Linked DNA regions of Homo sapiens: region 2 is reported to be linked to region 1. The links are microRNA targets in miRTarBase. Many come from high-throughput screens and were not tested one by one. Region 1 holds a microRNA gene; the other region holds the end of a gene's coding sequence.

Region 1 (3,406 bases):
CTCCATTCACCCCTGCTCCTGCACAGTCCCCAGCCCTAGGTGTGCACCCTCTAGTGTGGGGCGAATGGGCTCCTATGCCCATTAGCTCTGGGTTAGGCTCAGATGTATGTGCCGGGCTCCTGTTATGGGAGGGCTCAGAGCACAGGGGCCCCTGGCCTGGGAGCGGGTAGCTGTGTGCATGTGTGTGGGTGTGTGTGCCTCCATGAGCCTGTGTGTGCCTTCGTGAGCCTATGAGTGTGTGAGCATGCCCGGTGTGCACGTGTGTGGGTGCGTGTGCCTGCCAGTGCATGCGTATGCAGCTCTATGCTTGTGTGTATGTGCATGCGTGGGAGACAGATGGTGGAGAGCGACTGGGAGTGGGCGACAGTGGATCTGTCCCTGAGCCTACAGCACCCTGGGTGCCGATGCCACATCCACATCCTGCCCCCAGACCTGCTTCCCGGAGTCACCCATGCCTATATCCCCTGTGGCTTTGCCCATCAGTCCGTCTTTGTGTCCAGGTCTGCCTCAGTGGACAGAAGAGTGAGAGTCTTGGCCCTTGAACCCCTCCTCTTCTCCATCCTTCTCCACCTCCCCCCCTGCCTCTTCTTGGCAAAGCAGCTGGAGTGAGACCTGGGCTGAGGCCAAGGTTGGGGGTACTGTGCTCCCATGAGCTGCAGACACCGTCCTCTCACCGGCTCTCCCTCCTGTGTCCTGGAGTGGAACCCACCCCCGTTGCCCACCCCTTAACCCCTGCCCCCTTGTCTGGGGTTCTGGCCATCCCCCCCACCCCCACCCCCTAGTCTCCAGCTTCCAAGGCAGCTCCCAAGACAATGGGTTGAGCAAGGGGCAGGCTGGGTCCTGTGCCTAGCCCCTCAGCTCCCCCAGCCACTGCATGGGGCTTCTGCTGCTCTGTGGCACTGGCTGGGGAACCTCAGGACCAGATGGGGCCTCCCAGGCCTCGGCTACTGCATCACGCTCTGGACAGGGCCTTGGGCCCGGACGACGCCTGTGCCCGCCATGCCCTCTGGCCAGATGCTGCACCCTCCACCCAGCCTCCAGGTGAGTTCTCGTCATACCCACGGTGCCCCACCCTCCTTGGCATCCAGGTGATGCATCTACCTGAGGTTCCGAATCCAGGGGGGAAATGTTTGCCTTTGCACTGCATATTTACACACTGATTTGAATTGAGGGGTTCCCAAAATGACATCAGGCTTTTTCTGAAAAAGTCTGTTTTGCCCGATTGGTTTGCCAGTGAGGTTCAGAGTGGACAAATCAAAATGAGCTGATTCCAGACCTCTGAGGTTTTGACAAGTGCTCCATACCTAGCATTTGTCACATCTATATGCTATAGTATATGCCAGAGGCCACCTCATTGCAACTTTGTAAACTTCCTATTAACTTTTACGGCCCATTTAAAAATGGGCTATGGGAGGGGGAGATCCGTGGCTTTCCAAAATCCCTTCATGGGGTCTGTAAGCAGAAATGTCTGCTGCCCCCTGTTCCAGGGCACGTCCCACTCCTCACTGGCAGGGCTCTCGGGCTCACTGATTATTCTCTGAGGATCACACAGGGTCGATTTTCTGTGAATGCAAGTGCGTGGGGTGGGTGGTGGGGCGTCGAGCTGAACGCTGGTCTGGACAGGAAAGGCTCCTGCTTCATGTCCCACCTTGACCCTCAGAGGTTTCCAGGCCCAGCTCTTGGGCCCTGGCTTCCTCCTCTCCCTCTCGTCTTTGGGGGGGGTCCATCTCATGCATGTCTGTTACCATGGACTCCATCATCACGGCTCCCATCACCTCCATCTGGCCTCTGTCATCCTGGGCACAGCATCTCATCTCTGGCCATTCCAGCCTCCATCACCCGCCTCACCTCCATCATCCTCGCTTCGGGGCTCATTCTGGCCTCCAGGGCTTTGTACATGGTAGGCTTTCATTCATTCGTTTGCACATTCGGTGAAGGTCTACTGTGTGCCAGGCCCTGTGCCAGGCATCGTGTAGATGGACGTTGCCCTTGTGAGTGCACGCCTCGGGGAGACGCACGCCAGCCGGTGGATGGCAGGAGAGCCTGGGCCAGGGCTGGGGGTGGGGGCGTGGGTGTGGGCATGAGTGCAGAGGAGGGTGAGCTGGTTTCCAGAAGGGCGGGATCAGCTGGGGTGGTGGGCAGGGGGAGGAAGTGCGGGCTCAGCTGAGGTCCTGCTGTGTGGAGCCTGGAGGGAGAGATTGCATGTCCCCTCTCTATTCCCCATGGGTCATCTCAGTAATGGCTGCCGGAGTTCAGGGGTCCCTAGATTGCTCCCAAGGTCCTCACTCCCAAGTCCTTGGCAAGATTCCTGCGCCCCAGGAGCCTTTTGGCACCTGAACTCTGCCACCTAGTCTGCTGGTCAGCCTCTGTGCTGCCCGCGTTGGTGGGTGTCATTGGATTGTTAACGATGTACGTTTTGCTCTAAAATGATGGTGATTGAAGATGGGAATTATTTTGTCAGTTGATTTTAATGTTTTCTTTTTTGTGTGTGAAGTGTTTGTTGTGAAATATCTATTTTGGAAGTTTTTAGGTGTTGGAAAGCCAGAATCTGGGGCCCTCTGGTGTCTAGGAAGAACCTGTGATGCCCTGGGGTGAAGGGATGTGGACTCCCAGGGACAAAACAGTGGACTCTGAGGTCCTCAGGGTCACCTCCCTTTAGGGACTAGAGCACACTCAGTATTCGGGGGCCTCTGTGGTCTTTAAAGATGTCCCATGTTTGCTAAGGAAATGTTACTTTTGCTGGAGGAACTTCTGAAAAATGTTTAGAATTGTTTACCTGCATGTTTTATCTCGTTCAGAATTAGAATTGGTGGCATGTAGATATGCTTCTGGGTCTACCGAGATGAGGCAGGCCTACTGGGTCTCCACCTTCAGCTCAGGACACCCATCATTCACCTGGGAGGGGCTTGCTTCATTAGATGTTCACAAGGCTGAAAAGTGTCCCAGCCTCAAGTGTCACGTGGAGCCTCTTCCACATGCATCGCCAGAAGCGCCTCCTCCCCCATCACTCTGACCCCGCCCCACACAGACGTGTCACACTAGGCTCCTCCTCGAGTCATGTGTCACCGGTGGATGGCAGGAGAGCCTGGGCCAGGGCTGGGGGTGGGGGCGTGGGTGTGGGCATGAGTGCAGAGGAGGGTGAGCTGGTTTCCAGAAGGGCGGGATCAGCTGGGGTGGTGGGCAGGGGGAGGAAGTGCGGGCTCAGCTGAGGTCCTGCTGTGTGGAGCCTGGAGGGAGAGATTGCATGTCCCCTCTCTATTCCCCATGGGTCATCTCAGTAATGGCTGCCGGAGTTCAGGGGTCCCTAGATTGCTCCCAAGGTCCTCACTCCCAAGTCCTTGGCAAGATTCCTGCGCCCCAGGAGCCTTTTGGCACCTGAACTCTGCCACCTAGTCTGCTGGTCAGC
Region 2 (3,406 bases), not on the chromosome of region 1:
CTTGTAACACGGGGTGAGTGCTCTCAGCAGCAGAAACCTCCAGTGGCCCTCAGGGAACCAATCTCTGTTCCTGCCATTCATGCAGTGCATCTCAAACTGGGGATCTATTTTTCCAGGGGATACAAAAGACGTATTTAAAGTTACACAAGTATCCATTTTACTAGTTGGTAAATAATATAAAACATTATTTTTAAAATATTTAAACATATGGAATATATAAAATTATGAAGTAAAATGCAGCATTTACATGAATTTTTTGTGTAAAACATAAGACTCCAAAAGAACTCTGTGCTTGGGACATTCCCAGACCATTCCAGGCACACATGTTTATTCTCTGCGTTAGGTGCAGTTCATGGAAAAGGCTTAGGAAGTGCTACACAAGTGCATCCTGGGAGCCTTCAGTCCCCACACTGCCTCCTTGTGAAACACCAAAGTCAAAGATGTTTCTTAGAGGAGCATTTTCTTTTTTTCCTAGCTGAAGACTTTTGGCTCAGAGGAACTAAGGAAAATGGAAGGATAAGCTTCCATGCGTTGTACTAGAAAATTCTCTAAAACTTAAAAATGTACCTTAGAATGAAGGGAAAAAAGATTTTGGGGAGGATGCTTCTAGGGAGGAATGTCTAGGATTCTTCGACTAGGCAAGCTTTCTAATATTAAACATTCTGGAGCAGTGTTGTCAGCAGAAGGCCTAACAGACATAGGAAAGGTGGGCATCAGTCAACTCTTAGCGCATTAAGACAAGTCCACTTATACAGAAAGATGAATAAAAAGAGTTGAGATTCATCAATAAGAGATGTTCGAAAATAATTGCTTTATGAGGCTATGTAAATAAAATGATTTTCATAAATTATTTGCTATGCATCTAACAGCAGATATACCTGTTTGACCTTGAAAAACTATAGACAGAAAATTCAAACACTCTATTTACAAAACTGATCAATATTTAGCTTTAGACACTGAAATAAGTATGAGTAATGTAAATATCAACGATTAGTGACCATAAACTCTTTAAGGTTATGTTTTGAAACAAACATGAAAACCAGTAAGAAATTCTAAGCACAGTGAAAAAAGAAATGTTTAAAATTATTTTTAGCAGTAGGTCTGCTTGTGTTTCAACTAAAATCAAAACCTGTTTTCTTATCTGAGATATAATGACCAGATTCTGTTAATAAAGAAATGTTTTTCTTTAAAGACTTAAATAACAGTCTAAATATTTGGGCTATTTTTTCCTTTTAAAAATAAAATAAAATTCAGAATTTTTTAATTTAAACATGAATTGTGCTTTAAATTTGGCCCAGCATCTTCCTGTTTCCCTGAATTTTACACACACACACACACACACACACAAACACACACACACACACAGACGTGTACAAAGTGCATCAGGCTGAGGCAAAATCTGGACCTTCCTGGGAGACCAAGGAATCATATTAAAGTCTTATGGGACCTTGGAAATAATTTTGTCTTGATTTTTACTGGAGCAAAACTGAGATCAAGAAAGGTTGTACAGGCTTGCCTAGAATCCCACATCTGGTGGTTGCAAATTTGGACCAGAGCCTTGATTCCTGTGAAGCAAAGTGAATTAAGATGACCTGGGTTCTAGCACAGACTTCACCAACAGGGCAATCTCTGGTCAGTGTCTTCACTGCTCTGGATTTCACCGCTCCTAGTCAAAAATGCTGAAAGTCATTTTGAACAAACAGAGTCCCAACCACCCCCTGAAAAGGTTGGAAATGCAAGGGGGTGTTTCTAGTTGCTGTAATTACAGGAGGGTGTGACTGCCATCTGTGCTCTGGGTTCTGTAATTCATATCCTGCAAAAAGAACAACTTCCTCCCACACATTGCAGTGTCCCCCCACCTCGCATCCCATGTTGAGAAATATAGGGTGACCCATTACCACGCCTGGGCTCTTTTCATAGTAACTCATCTCCCAGCCAACTCTATGAGTGGCAGCGGCAATCTCACTTAAATGACTCTGCTTTTAGTTTGTCAAGTCACTTTTTGGAATTTCCATTTTGGCATATCTGTATTCTATTTTTAGAACTTTAGTTAGGAAAGGTTATGTTATGTTGGATACAAGTGGAAAATACAGTCATCTTTAGGTGGCCAAATTTTTTAACAGAACTAATTTCCAAATGTAGACTGCCTTAAAAACATTTAATTGTATGATACAACCTTTTAAATAATTTCAGGTTTTTAAAAAATGCATTTCTGTAATCGGCTGTGGCATGACATATAACTTATTGGCAAAATTTCAAATATTTTGATATCTGGTCATTAAATCTTGCCTATGTCTATGATTTATAAATGAACCACAAATGCCACAACTAAGCAGAAGCAAAAAAGTAAAATGCAGCCTATGAATTATATCACAAATAAATAAAAAATACTGTATTCCTTTAAACAAATGTACTTTTAAGAGCTTTATAACTCAAAGCAAGATATGCGAGATGGTTTAAGGAGAGGTTGCAATTTTGCAACAGGAAGTCTGTACAGCTCCTCCAGGCAGTAGCTGTGAAGGAAATACCTGTGTCTCAGAAATTTGTTTCCATGTGTTCATGACACTTTTGCATCCAGGCCCCATTATTTACAAAGTTATGCATTTTGCAAGCTCACAGTACCTTATTCTTCATAATTATGAATGCATGCAATGACATTTCATCCTTTCATGTGAAAATTCTAAGCTTCATTGTAAAATAAACGTTAAGACTTGAAAATCGGCCTACAATTTGAAATGAAAGGATCAAAAATGTCAGACATTGCAGAATATTGGTTCCTAATAGAGCTCTTTTTATTTGTTCACTGTTCTTCAGTCATTTTTGTTGGTTTGTTACAAAATGCAGTCTTGACTCATTATTTAAACAGTACTTAAGCTAAACTGTTCATGCCATGCAAAAATAACATTTTATGCACTTTTTTTGGGGAGGGCTTCCCATTTTTTTAGTTCACAGGCATTATTAACCGCATTTTTAAGAAACAAGTTTTGTTTTGTTTTGTTTTGTTTCAATTTATTGCTTTTGTAACTAGTCACATGCTGGTTTCACGTGTGGGACAATAACCTGTGTCTCCTGGGTTGGAATGAATTTCTGGGGCAAACAAGTGATTTTCCATCTTGCACCCTTCTTGACTACTGTCCTTTTTGACTTCACTCACAGCATGGTAAATGTCTTGCCTACAGTTGTGACCTGTGTCCTGCGGGGAGGAAGAGCCCACACTGCCCTCTTCTCTTAAAGGGTCTCTCCCATCACTAGGCTTATCTGCAAAGCAATTTGGGCTGGAGTCCACCTGCTTCTCCTCCCTTGCCCCTGGGAGCTCTAAGAAGTCTTCGTCGTCACCAGTATCTATTTCAGTGAAGCTCCTCCTCTCTCTTGAAGAGAAAGGGAACAGTTTCTGCTTGGGAAACCT

What was found. The annotated mature microRNA hsa-miR-493-3p reads UGAAGGUCUACUGUGUGCCAGG and lies in region 1 at 1,933-1,954, shown strand. An mRNA with a match to its seed (bases 2 to 7 or 8) in the 3' UTR can be bound and repressed. Matches are read on the target gene's strand: a 7mer-m8 pairs with bases 2 to 8, a 7mer-A1 pairs with bases 2 to 7 and ends in A, and an 8mer does both.
Region 2: the mRNA of KCNB2 is a reported target of hsa-miR-493-3p. The part of its 3' UTR that is shown has no 7-base or 8-base seed match.

The regions. Positions count from the first base shown.
Region 1 is chr14:100,867,184-100,870,589 of GRCh38, forward strand. MIR493 (microRNA 493) reads left to right here and starts at 1,877; the gene lies at 1,877-1,965. RefSeq lists an enhancer at 356-525.
Region 2 is chr8:72,937,714-72,941,119 of GRCh38, reverse strand. KCNB2 (potassium voltage-gated channel subfamily B member 2) reads right to left here. Exons shown (of 3, transcript NM_004770.3): 3 at 2,771-3,406. The coding sequence ends at 3,029. Among named protein-coding and RNA genes, the nearest start is that of KCNB2-AS1, 58 kb to the right of the region's middle.